4 linked regions of the Homo sapiens genome follow. The protein of the gene in region 3 purifies or fractionates together with the protein of the main gene of each other region. This does not show direct contact. Each region holds a gene or a part of one and is shown on either strand. Other genes may lie near its edges.

Region 1 (3,390 bases), on a different chromosome or scaffold from region 3:
CTAGTCATGTAAGTATTATTCCCATTTCCCAGCGGGGACCACTGAGGCCCAGAGAAGTGAATGACTTGACAAGTTCACCTAGCTTCTCATTGAGGAGTCCAGGATTTGGGTCCAGGTCTTCCTGACCTTAAGCCTATACCCTCAACCACTCCCACAGGGCCTTCATTAAGCCTCTACCAGGGCTGTTGCTTGAACAAGAGGCAGCCTCTCTAGGTCCTTCTCAGAGCATCTCCCTCACCTGCGGTTGTGATAGCAGCTCCACAGTTCTCCAGGTGCCCTGGTTGGGCCCTGCCCGTCCTTCTACCCAGGCGGCACTGTGTCAACACCTTCTCCTCTCAGGAGCCAGGTGACCGAGCTCCCGAAGCCACAGATAGGTAGAACAGAGGTGGAGAGAGGAGAGTGGAGGAGGGTGGAGATAAGGTGAAGGGGACTGGTGCCCCGTGTGGGCAGGAACGGGAGGCTGGAACGAGCAGTTAGTTCCTCCAAGGAAGACGCATGAACCTTTTCTACACCTTTATTTATGAAATGCTTATTGAACGGATACAAAGTTAGTGTCTGTCAGCAGGCTGGTGGAGGGAGTTAATGTGCCCTCCTTCCTTCCCCTGGTGGGGGCTGAAGCCAGAAGTGGCTTTATCCTTCCCTCCACCTTGGCAGCAATGGGCTGGGAGGGCCCTGGGACAGGGAGGGGGTTCAAGGGCAGGAAGAGGAAGGGAACAATGGGTAGTAGGGCCTGGGGCAGAGCCCCCTTCTCCTGGAATAAGAGGCTTGACCCTGCTCACCCTGGCAGGAGCTGTGCTTCTCCTTTGCAGCATGGAGAAGTGGTTTGCACTGGGCAGCAGGGGGGATGAGCTCTGGGACTCTCTCCTCCTCCCCAGCCCAGGGTTGGGAGTGCCCTTTTCAGCTATTTCTCACGTAAGGGTCCTCTGTAACACCTCTAGTTCCCTTCAGGAATGCCTGCCTCCCCAGATCTCAAAGGGCACTGCCCTCAGTCCTTGGGGTTAAGGGGCAGGGAGCCAGACGTGGTGGGGCACAGCAGCTGGTGACCTCTCCCTGACGGGGGCCTCAACTATGTCCACACTTCTAGGGGGATCATGCCCTCCTTGCTACCCAGCGGGGGCAGCAAAGACTCATCCTCTAGGAACTTGAGGGGGAAGTGGACCAGGTGGCCCTGGACCTGGGTGAGCTCAGACCGAGCCAAGGGGGGACTGACCGTGGCCAAGGGCTCCACGGCCACGTACTCCCGGAGAGTCCGCAGGGAACGCGTGGCATTGGATGGCAGGCAGCGGAAGATCTGTGGGCGGGGGCATGGACGCCAGTAAGGCTTGGGGAGACTCTCCCAACAATCTAAGTCCAACTAGGCTAGACCCCTTCCCCCATACCATCTCTCCATACCCCCCGTTGACCCTGGGCCACTAACTCTCTCTCTCTTTTTTTTTTTGAGACGGAGTTTCACTCTTTTTGCCCAGGCTGGAGTGCAATGGTGCGATCTCGGCTCACTACAATCTCCACCTCTCGGGTTCAAGTGATTCTCCTGCCTCTGCCTCCTGAGTAGCTGGGATTACAGGTGCCCACCACCATGCCCGGCTAACTTTTGTACTTTTTTTTTTTGAGACAGAGTTTTGCTCTTGTTGCCCAGGTGGCTGGAGTGCAATGGCGTGATCTCGGCTCACTGAAATCTCTGTCTCCTGAGTTCAAGAGATTCTCCTGCCTCAGCCTCCCAGCCACACCTAGCTAATTTTTTTGTATTTTTAGTAGAGATGGGGTTTTGCCATGTTGGGAGGCTGATCTCAAACTCCTGACCTCAGGTGATCCACCGGGCCTTGGCCTCCCAAAGTGCTGGGATTACAGGCATGAGCCACTGCACCCGGCCTGGGCCACTAAATCTCTTGATAGCAAATGTCCCCAGGCCCTCATCCCCCTTCCAATAATGACTGTATGGTGGCGCTTCTCTCCATCCTACCCTGAGCAGGATAATCCACAAATTTCCCCAGGCCACTCTCCCCCACCCCTCCCAAGTTCCCACCTGCTCATAGATATTGGCGTTGCTCTCAGCCATGTCTTGCCACAACTGGAAGAAGTCATCACAGATGGGGTCTCGGAGATCCAAGTCTGGCCGGGTATTTGCTCCAAGAATCACACTATAGGAGAAAGGGGTCCCAGCAGGGCCAGATTAAGATCCTTAGAGAACCTGAGTACCAGAAAAGTTACATTGTCCCTACTCAGGTAATTCAAAATTGGCTGGGTGCGGTGGCTCACGCCTGTATTCCCAGCACTTTGGGAGGATGAGGCAGGTGGATTGCTTGAGCTCAGGAATTCAAGACCAGCCTGGGCAATATGGCAAAACCCCATCTCTACAAAAAAATACAAAAATTAGCCAGGCACGGTGGCATGTGCCTATAGTCCCAGCTACTTGGGAGGCTGAAGTGGGAGGATCACTTCAGCTGGCGAAGTCGAGGTTGCAGTGAGCCGTGGTAACGCCACTGAACTCTAGCTGGGTGACAGAGCAAGACCCTATCTCAAAACAAACAAACAAACAAAAACAAAATAAATGCAATATAAAATAGTAAAATAAGTGTAAAAGAAGCCAACAGAGTTCTGATTTGTCTTGACTTTGATGACTACCTTGATGCTTTAAAAAATTATTTTTATTTTAAATTTTCTTCTTTTTCTGTTCTTTCCCCAATCCTCAGAACCTGTGAAAAAAATTACTTTTAAAAGATTTTTTTTTTGGCCGGGCACGGTGGCTCATGCCTGTAATCCCAGCACTTTGGGAGGCTGAGATGGGCGGATCACGAGGTCAGGAGATCGAGACCATCCTGGCTAACACGGTGAAACCCCATCTATACTAAAAATACAAAAAATTAGCTGGGCATGGTGGCGGGCGCCTGTAATCCCAGCTACTCGGGAGGCTGAGGCAGGAGAATGGTATGAACCCGGGAGGCGGAGCTTGCAGTGAGCCGAGATCGCGCCACTGCACTCCAGCGTGGGTGACAGAGCGACTCCGTCTCAAAAAGAAAACAAACAAACAAACAAAACACAAAAGTTTTTTTTTTTTGGCCGGGCGTGGTGGCTCATGCCTGTAATCCCAGCACTTTGGGAGGCGGAGGCGGGCAGATCACGAGGTCAAGAGATCTAGACCATCCTGGCTAACACGGTGAAACCCCGTCTCTACTAAAAATACAAAAAATTAGCCGGGCGAGGTGGCGGGTGCCTGTAGTCCCAGCTACTCGGGAGGCTGAGGCAGGAGAATGGCATGAACCCTGGGCGGCGGAGCCTGCAGTGAGCCGAGATCGCGCCACTGCACTCCAGCCTGGGCGACAGTGAGACTCCCTCTCAAAAAAAAAGAAAAAAAAAAAAGATTTTTTTTTTTTTTTGGCCAGGGGCGGTGGT
Region 2 (3,500 bases), on a different chromosome or scaffold from region 3:
CCCAGCACTTCGGGAGGCCAAGGTGGGCGGATCACCTGAGGTCGGGAGTTCAAGACCAGCCTTTGGAGAAACCCCATCTCTACTAAAAATACAAAATTAGCCAGGCGTGGTGGCTCACACCTGTAATCCTAGCACTTTGGGAGGCCGAAGCAGGTGGATCACCTGAGGTCAGGAATTCAAGACCAGCCTGGCCAACATGGTGCAACTCCGTCTCTACTAAAAATACAAAATTAGCCGGGCATGGTGGCGCATGCCTGTAATCCCAGCTACTCAAGAGGCTGAGGCAGGAGAACCACTTGAACCTGTGAGGCAGAGGTTGCAGTGAGCCAAGATTGTGCCATTGCACTGCAGCCTGGGCAACAAGAACAAAACTCCGTCTCAAAAAAAAAAAAAAATCATTAGTAGCGTTCTCTGTCAGTTTATTGTGGAAAGAAATCAAGTAAACAAATTCTCAAAAAGATTTGCTTCAAATAAGAGAACACTGTTTAGGTGGAAGATCTCCTTTTTCAGCACGGTCTTCCCAAGGTAACAAGGGGGTTGGGATTGACTTGGGTGTGTCTGACATAATTGAGAAAGAAATTTAGTCTGCAGGTTAAAAGTGAAGCTGAAATCCAGGAGTTAATGTTTTCCTCAATGGCTTATAAAAAAATTGAAGAGTGACACAGTTTTCTCATTTTAAAAGTGGCTAATTTCTAATGCTAATACTGGTTATGCAGAGTATTAAAATTTCTGATAAATGTTTTAGTAAAAACTAATTCTCTCCATGTCTGTGCATATATTATTTAATAATATGATCCTTAAATGTATGTGATCCAACCAATCTGTGGCAAATCATAACCTCCAAGACTATATACAGATTAGAACTACGTACAGATTATGTAAAATTTACTCTTGTGACACATGAGTTATTTTAATTGAATTTAAGTTGCCACCCCAATTAAAAATTATTTCATATTTTAAAGATAAGATTTTAGAAATATCTTCTACAGAATATTAGTATCTGACTAGGAATGTAAGTCCATTATGTTTCATGTACAGCTTCCTCACTCCTATCTGGACTTTTTAACTTTCAGAAGTTTAAGGAAATAAATAGCACGAATGATAGAATGAACACAAATATTACCACCACCCAGAATTAATATTTCGTTATGTTTACTTAGAATGTTTCTTTTTAATAAGAAATAGATACAAAATTGAAGTATCCTTTAACTACCATGCTTGGTAACATTTCCCTTCCACCTCCTTTCTTCCTAGAGGTAACCACTCCACTTTTGGGAACTGAGTATATACATATCCTTTCAATCCATTCTTTAGTTTTACATAATTTATCCATAACCAATTCTTAGTACTAGGGCTGGTTAGTGTTGATTTTATTCAAATTCACAGAAGCATCATTACAATATGTTCATCATTTTTCTTCACTCTAATTTTTTAAAAATATTTCTGTTAATATATAGACTTAATTTGTCACTTAACTGCTAGAGAGTACTCTACTATGTTACTATCACATTTTATTCATCTATTTCACAAGAGACAGCATTTGTTTCCCAACTTCTGGCTACTATAACTCATGGTGCAATGAACTATACAGCTATAGACCAGTACATGACTCCCTGTGTTCATGTTTCTTGGGTAGATGCATATATATAGTAGTTCCCCCTTATCCACAGCTTTGCTTTCCATGGTTTCAGTTACCTGTAGTCACCACAGTTCATAAATAGTTGAGAACAGTACAATAAGGTATTCTGAGAGAAAGATCATATTCACATAACTTTTATGATTACAGTATATTGTTATAATTGTTCCATATTATGTTTATTATTGTTTTAAATCTCTTGCTGTGTCTAATCTGTAAACTAAATTTTATCATAGGTATGTATATATAAGAAAAAAACATAGACATAGAGTTTGGTCCTATCTGGGTTTTAGGTATCCACTGGGGGTCTTAGAGTCCATCTCTTGCAGAAAATAGGGGACTACCATACTCAAGAGTGGAACTACCGGGTATTCTGGAATGTTTTAGAAGTTCTTTCCTGCCCTAAGGTTTTAAAAACATCTTCTTATAAAACTGTTATATTATTAAGTATTGCTTTTTGCATTTTAGTCTTTAGTACTTTAAGAATTCATAAGAAAAATATTTTATATTATGATGGGAGATATTATTTTTCCATATGAAGAGTCAATTAATTTTTAAGTAATCCATGATTTCCCCACCAATCTGGGATACCGCCTCTATCAATTACCAATTCCCCATATATTCATGCACACATTTCTGAATTCAATATTCTGTCTCAGTCTCAGTTTTATGACTGCTTCAACAACAAATAATTTTGATGATTCTAGTTTTACAATTCATATATGTAGCAAAACATCACAAAAATGATAATTTTGTCTCTTAATTTCAAATCCTCATACATCTCATATCTATTTCTTAATGCATCTGTAGGCCTTCCAGGAACACATTAAGTAGTGTCCATGACTAGATCCTAACTTTAATGAGTATACTCCTAGAAGTACAGCATTGATAATGCTTGTTGTGGGAGTTTTGGGGGTACGGGTTTTCTTTACACTATAATACTTATTAAACATCATAGTATTTAAGTTTTGAATTGCTGCTGAAGGACTTCCCACATTCATGTCACTTTAATGTAAAATGAATTTTCCAATACACTATTAAGTGTAAAATCTGCTGAACGTTTTGCTAAATCCAAGGCATTCATAGAGAACTTTAATGAGTATGAATTCTCTGGTGTCTAATGTGATGTGACTTTTGGCTGAAAGCTTTCCCACATTCACTACACTGATAAGGTTTTTCACCAGTATGGATTCTCATGTGCAGAGCAAGGGTTGAGAACTGAGAAAAGGCTTTCCCACATTCATTACAACCATAGGGTTTCTCACCTGTATGGCTTCTCATATGCACAGTAAGAGATGAGCTTTGACAGAAGGCTTTCCCACAGACCTTACACTCATAAGGCTTATCACCTGTATGAATTCTCACATGTACAATAAGTGATGTGATTCGAGAGAAGGCTTTTCCACATTTATTACATTCATAGGGTTTCTCTCCTGTATGAATATTGTGATGTTTAATGAGGTATTGCTTCTGCCTGAAGATTGTTCCACATTCATTACATTTGTAGGGTTTCTCTCCAATATGAATTTTCTCATGCTCTGTGAGATTTGACTTGCCACTGAAGGCTTTCCCACATTCCTTACACGTATAAGGTTTCTCTCCTGTGTGACTTCTCTGGTGTCTAATGAGGCTTGACTTCTGAATGAAAGCTTTCCCACACCCTTTACATTCATAAGGTTTCTCTCCAGTATGGATTCTCTGATGTATAATGAGGTTTTCCTTCTGGCTAAAAGCTTTTCCACACTCACTACATTTAAAGGGCTTCTTTCCAGTATGGATGTTCTGATGTTTAATGAGGTATTGCTTCTGGCTGAAGGCTCTTCCACACTGATTACATTCAAATGGTTTTTCTCCAGTATGAATT
Region 3 (3,381 bases):
CTTACCCTAGATCCAGTTTTCCCCATTTATAACATTTCACTTAGTCCATTTTCGGAACCAGAAAATTAACATTGGCATAATGCTATTAACTAAACTACAGACCTTTTTTCAATTTCGCCAGTTTTTCCACACATATTCATTTAGTTGCTGGATACTTTTAATTCTTGCTGATTTGTAAACTGGCCTTGCTTGGATACAACAGGAAAGATACTATCTGGATAAAGTTCTACAGTTTTAGAGAGACTATTAACACATTAATGTGTTCCTTTGTCATGAGCAATACCCTGCCTACACTGCTTCTAAATTTTCTGATTTGTTTGGCTGTTTGGCATCTGAAACAATCCAAGACAAACTTAGAAAGATTAGGCAACACAAAACACAGTAAGACCTGTTCATAGCTTGTTGTCTAGAAAACCAGGTAGCAGGATATTCTAGATGCTTCCTGCTGCTTCTACGTGAGTAGGATTAGCACTGGGGACAAAATAAGGAGTTTAGAGTAAACCAGTATTTCAGTCAAGAGTTAGTTGGCACTTAGTTAATGGCACTGGAAATAGCTTGTGGAGAGAATAGAATACAATGGTATAGACTCCTAATGTTTGATAAAATACTATTTTCAGAGTGGTAGAGAGGTTTTATTTGCCTAAATAGCCGTTATTAAATGGAATAACAACCACATTAGACCAAATTAATTGCAAACACAGCGGCAACCTGGGGAGAAGTTGAAACTCCAGTTTTGTGGATTACAGTTTTGAGTTTTATGATTGACATTTTTAAGTCCCCTATTTAAGGGGTCAAGATTATAACAATGTGTGTCTTACTAAGTTTCTAGGTCATTGTGAGCACTTGATAAATATTTGCTGAATGTTGTTTTTTTGAATGAACATAAGATAGAAACAAAAACTTCTCATCCAGTTAACTAGAGTGAATGTAGGGAGAATTGTTTTGCTTGTAACATGGAGAGTTTATTTTCAAGTGAGGAAAGAGAAAAAAATTACTCAGACTTGTTCCTGGTGAAGTGCATTCTCTGTTTGTATACTTTTTGATGGAGAAATTGATCTATAGAACTGCTTAATTTTTTGAGGCATTTAGACAGCAATGAAAGGTAGTTCTCCACAGGACACCGAATCAAAAGGAGAGACCAGACTCTGGCCTCATACCCAGCCTATTTGAAACAAGCTATCTAGTTTCTCCTGCAGACACCTTGTCAACAACATGCAACAGTGTCAGGTGCCTTGCAGGAAAATAATCTGAGTCCCAAGCTAGCCTGTGCTCATCCACAATCACAATGAACATGTCAAGGAAGAATTTGCAGAGACTCAAGGGAAGCACAATGGGATAAGGTAATCACTTTCAGTGAAAAACTGTTTTCTTGAAAACAGGCTTGGACACAATTGAAAGCTGGCTTCCTGCAAACACACCAAGAGTCTGTAATCTAGCCTATCCATTATATGTCCTTTATTATTCATGATATCCTATTCTTCTACCTTGTTGCCTGGTAACTTTTTCTGAGGACTGAGTTTCTGCAGCGATGTGGTGCACTCTTCCTGTGATGAGGAAACATCTGGGCCCCCTTCTGCAGGCTTTGGAAGATGATGTGTCTTGTCAAGGGGTAAAGGGCAAATGGATTTAATTTCTGCTTAAAACTATCATAGACGTTCCAAATAGAATATGTAAAATTTCTCTGTATTAGAAAAAGAAACGTGATACCAATTGTATATTTTCTTTTCTTTATTTATTCTCTGTAAGTCTGTCAGATGATAAATTGTAAATAACAATGATTAAAGAGTCATGCTACTGATGGATCTCCCTTTCTGTATAAACAGTGCCAGTTCTGGGCTTTGTAACCTTTGCTCTTTATAGTCTTTCATTCCTGGGGAAGTGATGGGGCATGGGCCCAGAGCTGGGGTGTATGTGGTATGGACACCTGTTTGTGGGGCTTTCCAGCAAAGGATTATTTAAATAGACCTCTAACATATGAGTTGACTGTTTATTGGGAAGAAAGCATCTTGGTCTCTGACATATCCAAACATACGAGACACTGGGATTTTACGTCCTCACATTAATTAGTCCAGTTCTGGGGAATCCAGTCTAGAATTAACTGGTGATCCCTTATCGTTATGGTTACAGACTTGTCTTGTTTGATACACAGAAATCCTTTTTAAATCCAAATATAGTCTGTCTCAGACTACCTGCACATGCACAAACCAAAAAAAACTATGAAAACCAGAATTTAGACTCAGTCATTATACTAGAGATTAGAATGAAACGACCCCAAACAACCCATTTCTTACCTGGTCTCTGAGAATAAGTTTATACTTTTAGTTTTCTGAGAATATTTCTCAGAATATGTGAGTTTTCTGAGCACATTTTTCAGCATGGGGTATGGTAGATAAATCACAGGGCCAAGGTTTGGCAGGGATAGATGGGATCATTGTGTACCCTATTGTTCTTCTGATTTCCAGGAGAACAGAATGAGCCCATGCAAAACATAAACTTATGATGATTAAAAAAAACACACCTATCCATTCACTCATCAATAAAAACATATTATGATGGTTATCAAGCTGTGTCCTATGAGTGATAAAATATTTGTAAAATATAAAATTAAATGGCATCTATTTTGAACTCTATTCTAGTCTCTCTGAGCACCTCTAGCAGTTCAGCCCATCTTTCAAAAGTCATAACACCTTGAAAGCAGCAACTTTAGTGCAGAAAAAGGAAGAAGAGAGCAGTTTCATCACTTGGCTTGAATGAAAATCTTGGGGAAAGGAGAGACAGACGGTCTTGCTCTGAAGCTGTCTGGACTTCACTTAATTCAGTCTGTCTTAGGCTGGCGGTCATCCCGAGACTGCGGTAATGCTGAGCCTCCACAGCCCAGGCCCTCTCCCTTCTTTATAGAAATGATTTTTTTATGGGACAGCCACACAACCAGGTCTTCTTCTTATTCCTTATCACCTCTGAGCTCTAGAACATTTTAAAATGAGTCTTTGGGTCTAGACTCTCACAATTAGGCTTAATTTTACTCCATGACTTTCAGAAAATGTTGTTAAATTGTGGTCTCTTTAGAACAGTTGAAAGTGGGATAAGCGTAGGAGCTGAGTTCCACCCCCATGATAAAGAAATTTTATTGGCCGGGCGCGGTGGCTCATGCCGGTAATCCCAACACTTTGGGAGGCCGAGGCAGGCAGATCACTTGAGCTCAGGAGTTCAAGACCAGCCTGGCCAACACGATGAAACCCCACCTCTACTAAAAAAAAAAAAAAAATATATATATATATATATATATACACATACATATATACACACACAAAAATTAGCTGAGTGTGGTGGTGTGTGCCTGTAGTCCCAGCTACTCGGGAGGCTGAGGCAGGAGAATTGCTT
Region 4 (3,500 bases), on a different chromosome or scaffold from region 3:
GCCTTTTGGCTACAATCAAGTATGATATTCGTGCCAGGTACAGTGGCTCATGTCTGTAATCCCAGCACTTTGGGAGGCTGAGGCGGGTGGATCACAAGGTCAGGAGATCGAGACCATCCTGGTTAACACGGTGAAACCCCGTCTCTACTAAAAATAAAAAAAATTATCTGGGCATGGTGGCGGGAGCCTGTAGTCCCAGCTACTCGGGAGGCTGAGGCAGGAGAATGGCATGAACCCGGGAGGCGGAGCTTGCAGTGAGCCGAGATCATGCCACTGCACTCCAGCCTGGGCAACAGAGCAAGACTCTGTCTCAAAAAAAAAAAAGTGTAATATTCGCATACTTGGGAAAGAACTGCACCAAGCTGGCTTTTGGATGGCCTTGCTCTGCTCAAGTTTGCAGTAACCCACATTTCTTTCTTTATAGCTCAAGGACATGGTGCCAAAGGAGACAATGTCTATGAATTTCACCTGGAGTTCTTAGACCTTGTGAAACCAGAGGTATGTTCTTTCCTTTCTCACTTCCCTTCCCATTTTAGGAAATGAATACCAGTAGTTTAGTGAAATGGGGAGCAGGGTTTGTGGAGAGAAGAAGATAAAAACCAAAGGGGAATAATAGAGTTCTTTTATTTGGAACAGAGCCCAGGTTTTAGCTGCAGAGGAATGGGAAAGTCAGAGACCCCAAGTTGAGTCAGGGCCCTGCCATTTATTAGCAGTGTGATCTTGAACAAGTCTCTTAACTTCTTCGAGTTCTGGTGTTCTCATGTGTTAAATGAAGGTCTGGACTAAGTGATCCTTCCAGCTCTGATATTCTCTGGTTTTAGTGATGGCAGAGGAATATGGCACCCATTGAGAACAGAGTTACATAGAGTGGTTGAAGCCCCCACCAGGGGTTACTTTCATGTGACTTTGCCACAGTTGCAGGTGAGAAAAATAGAAATCAGAAAGGGTGAAGGCAGCTGGCCTTCAGAAAGAATGCTGCAGATATCATCAAAACTTCCCTTCCCTTAGAGCCTGAGGAAGCTTCTCTCATAAGCAGGGAGAGAATCCAATAGATGGGGTATTTTGGCTTCTGGAATTACACTTAGCTCTGGTGGCTTGAGCTTCTTGATTTCCGTGCGCAGGTGCTCAGTTGTTTTGAGAAAGCATGAATAATAACCAGTGGTACAGTGGGCAGAGAACCTGTCATGGAGCTTCCTTTGGAGAAAAGGGACAGGACATGTAGACAAACAATGAGCTGGAATGGCCTATAAGAATTTGAGTTTAGTTGGGAAGACTCCCCAAATTGACCCCTGTGAAAAAATCTGTAACTGATCCAATACAGTTCTGATCTTGATGCAGGTGTTTCTAAAACCGGGGTCTGCTGAGCCAGGACAGTCATTTTCATGGGAGGAAAATTTATAAGCTGAGGGTAATTGGATGCAGTACCCTTGAGAGGGTGATTGGACATAGTACCTTGCATGATGTGGCTGTGGCAGGAGGTTCATGCTAGTTCCCTCCAGCCTAACCAGGAACTATTTGCCTTTCTTATCCTGATATCCTCCTGTATCATTCACTGGGGGAATCAGAGAAGGACATTATGTCCTTACCAGTTCTCCATGCCAGCCGTTGGTCTAGATCAACCTTTTTGGCACCAGGGACCAATTTTGTGGAAGGCACTTTTTCCACAGATGGTGGAATGGGGATGGTTTCAGGGTGATTCAAATGCATTACATTTGTTGTGCACTTTATTTCTGTTATTATTACATTGTAATATATAATGAATACAACTCACCATAATGTAGAATCAGTGAGAGCCCTGAGCTTGTTTTCTTGCAACTAGACAGTCCCATCTGGGGGTGATGGGAGACAGTGACAGATCATCAGGCATTATAGTCTCATAAAGAGTGAGCAACCTAGATTCCTTGCATGCACAATTCACAATAGAGTTCACGCTCCTATGTGAATCTTGTGCCAATGCTGATCTGACAGGAGGCAGGGCTTAGGCAGTAATGCAAGTGATGGAGAGCGAGTCTAAATATAGGTGAAGTTTCACTCACTTGCCCACCACTCAGCTCCTCCTGTGTGGCCCGATTCCCAACAGGCCATGGACCAGTATCAGTCCATGGCCCAGGAGTTGGAGACCCCTGGTCTAGATGTTCCCTTTGCATCAGGACTTGCAGGACCAGAGAAAGAAGGAGAATAAATATATCCTGCAGCTTCTATGTACGGCGCCCCTGGCATGGTGCTGCTTCAGGGAACAGAAGAGGGCATTCTCACATTTTCACTTTCTCTCCTAGCCTGTTTACAAACTGACCCAGAGGCAGGTAAACATTACAGTACAGAAGAAAGTGAGTCAGTGGTGGGAGAGACTCACAAAGCAGGAAAAGCGACCACTGTTTTTGGCTCCTGACTTTGATCGTTGGCTGGATGAATCTGATGCGGAAATGGAGCTCAGAGCTAAGGTTAGTAAGGATCCTAGGATCTAGCCATTGAGGACAAATCATGGGGAACCCACGTTATTCAGGCCACTTCAGATACCTCTCGGTCTGAAAGAATAGCTACAAAGTTACAAATTCATTTAAAGACCTGGTGATGTGATTTTCAAGAAGTATTGGCTATGTATTTTATAGACTTTCCTTCGGTTGAAATCTGTCTGATGTTTCTCTTACAACTAGACTAAGGTGATAGATGTTGAGGAGAAGACCACTGAAGTAAAGTGCAATTCTTATCACATCATATCAAGAGTACATACGGCCGGGCACGGTGGCTCACGCCTGTAATCCCAGCACTTTGGGAGGCCAAGGTGCGTGGATCACGAGGTCAGGAGATAGAGACCATCCTGGCTAGCACAGTGAAACCCTGTCTCTACTAAAAATACAAAAAATTAGCCGGGCGTGGTGGTGCATGCCTGTAGTCGGAGCTGCTCAGGAGGCTGAGGCAGGAGAATGGCGTGAACTCGGGAGGCGGGGCTTGCCGTGAGCCGAGATCACGCCACTGCACTCCAGCCTGGGCAACAGAGCGAGAGTCTCAAAAAAAAAAAAAAAAAGTACATACTGTCAACGTGACACATCACTGTTGATATTAACCATGGGTTAGCTGGCTTGAGGTGACGCTTATCAGGTTTCTCTACCATAAGGTTATTTTCCTCTTGGCTCTCCTTGGAAGGAAGTCACTATGTGTAGCCTACATTTAAGGAGCAGGGAGTTATGCTTCCTGTCCTTTAGATGGAGGGAGTATCTACATAATTTATTTGGAATTCTTCTGCATAGGAGAATAATTATGCATGTCTATTGTCTCCCATTTATTTATTCAATCATTTATATCATGTGAGTACATGGGTATTTATTTTATACTTTGAGTTATAATCTAATATTATTTATTTTGTTGCTCAAATTCTTCCAGCTTTGGCACTAACTGGCCTTTGGTTATGTCCTCATCCTGCCCATCTTTCATTTGGCTTTTGTATCTTTTTGAGAAAGCGCCATCATTATGGGACTGTTTTTTTTTTTTTTTTTGAGCAC

What was found.
Region 1: the proteins of DDR2 (region 3) and PLD2 purify together in Homo sapiens (affinity purification with mass spectrometry; one large-scale study listed by BioGRID and IntAct). This does not show direct contact.
Region 2: the proteins of DDR2 (region 3) and ZNF260 purify together in Homo sapiens (affinity purification with mass spectrometry; one large-scale study listed by BioGRID and IntAct). This does not show direct contact.
Region 4: the proteins of DDR2 (region 3) and HACD3 purify together in Homo sapiens (affinity purification with mass spectrometry; one large-scale study listed by BioGRID and IntAct). This does not show direct contact.

The regions. Positions count from the first base shown.
Region 1 is NC_000017.11:4,820,541-4,823,930, reverse strand, and holds the end of PLD2 (phospholipase D2), read right to left. Parts: intron 2,139-3,390; coding exon 2,024-2,138; intron 1,292-2,023; coding exon 1,067-1,291; 3' UTR 501-1,066; downstream 1-500.
Region 2 is NC_000019.10:36,511,272-36,514,771, forward strand, and holds part of ZNF260 (zinc finger protein 260), read right to left. Parts: coding exon 2,729-3,500; 3' UTR 1-2,728. UniProt on the Homo sapiens protein: Transcription factor that acts as a cardiac regulator and an effector of alpha1-adrenergic signaling. Binds to PE response elements (PERE) present in the promoter of genes such as ANF/NPPA and acts as a direct transcriptional activator of NPPA.
Region 3 is NC_000001.11:162,784,776-162,788,156, forward strand, and holds the end of DDR2 (discoidin domain-containing receptor 2 precursor), read left to right. Parts: 3' UTR 1-2,630; downstream 2,631-3,381. UniProt on the Homo sapiens protein: Tyrosine kinase involved in the regulation of tissues remodeling. It functions as a cell surface receptor for fibrillar collagen and regulates cell differentiation, remodeling of the extracellular matrix, cell migration and cell proliferation.
Region 4 is NC_000015.10:65,554,463-65,557,962, forward strand, and holds part of HACD3 (very-long-chain (3R)-3-hydroxyacyl-CoA dehydratase 3), read left to right. Parts: intron 1-424; coding exon 425-498; intron 499-2,276; coding exon 2,277-2,441; intron 2,442-3,500. UniProt on the Homo sapiens protein: Catalyzes the third of the four reactions of the long-chain fatty acids elongation cycle. This endoplasmic reticulum-bound enzymatic process, allows the addition of two carbons to the chain of long- and very long-chain fatty acids/VLCFAs per cycle.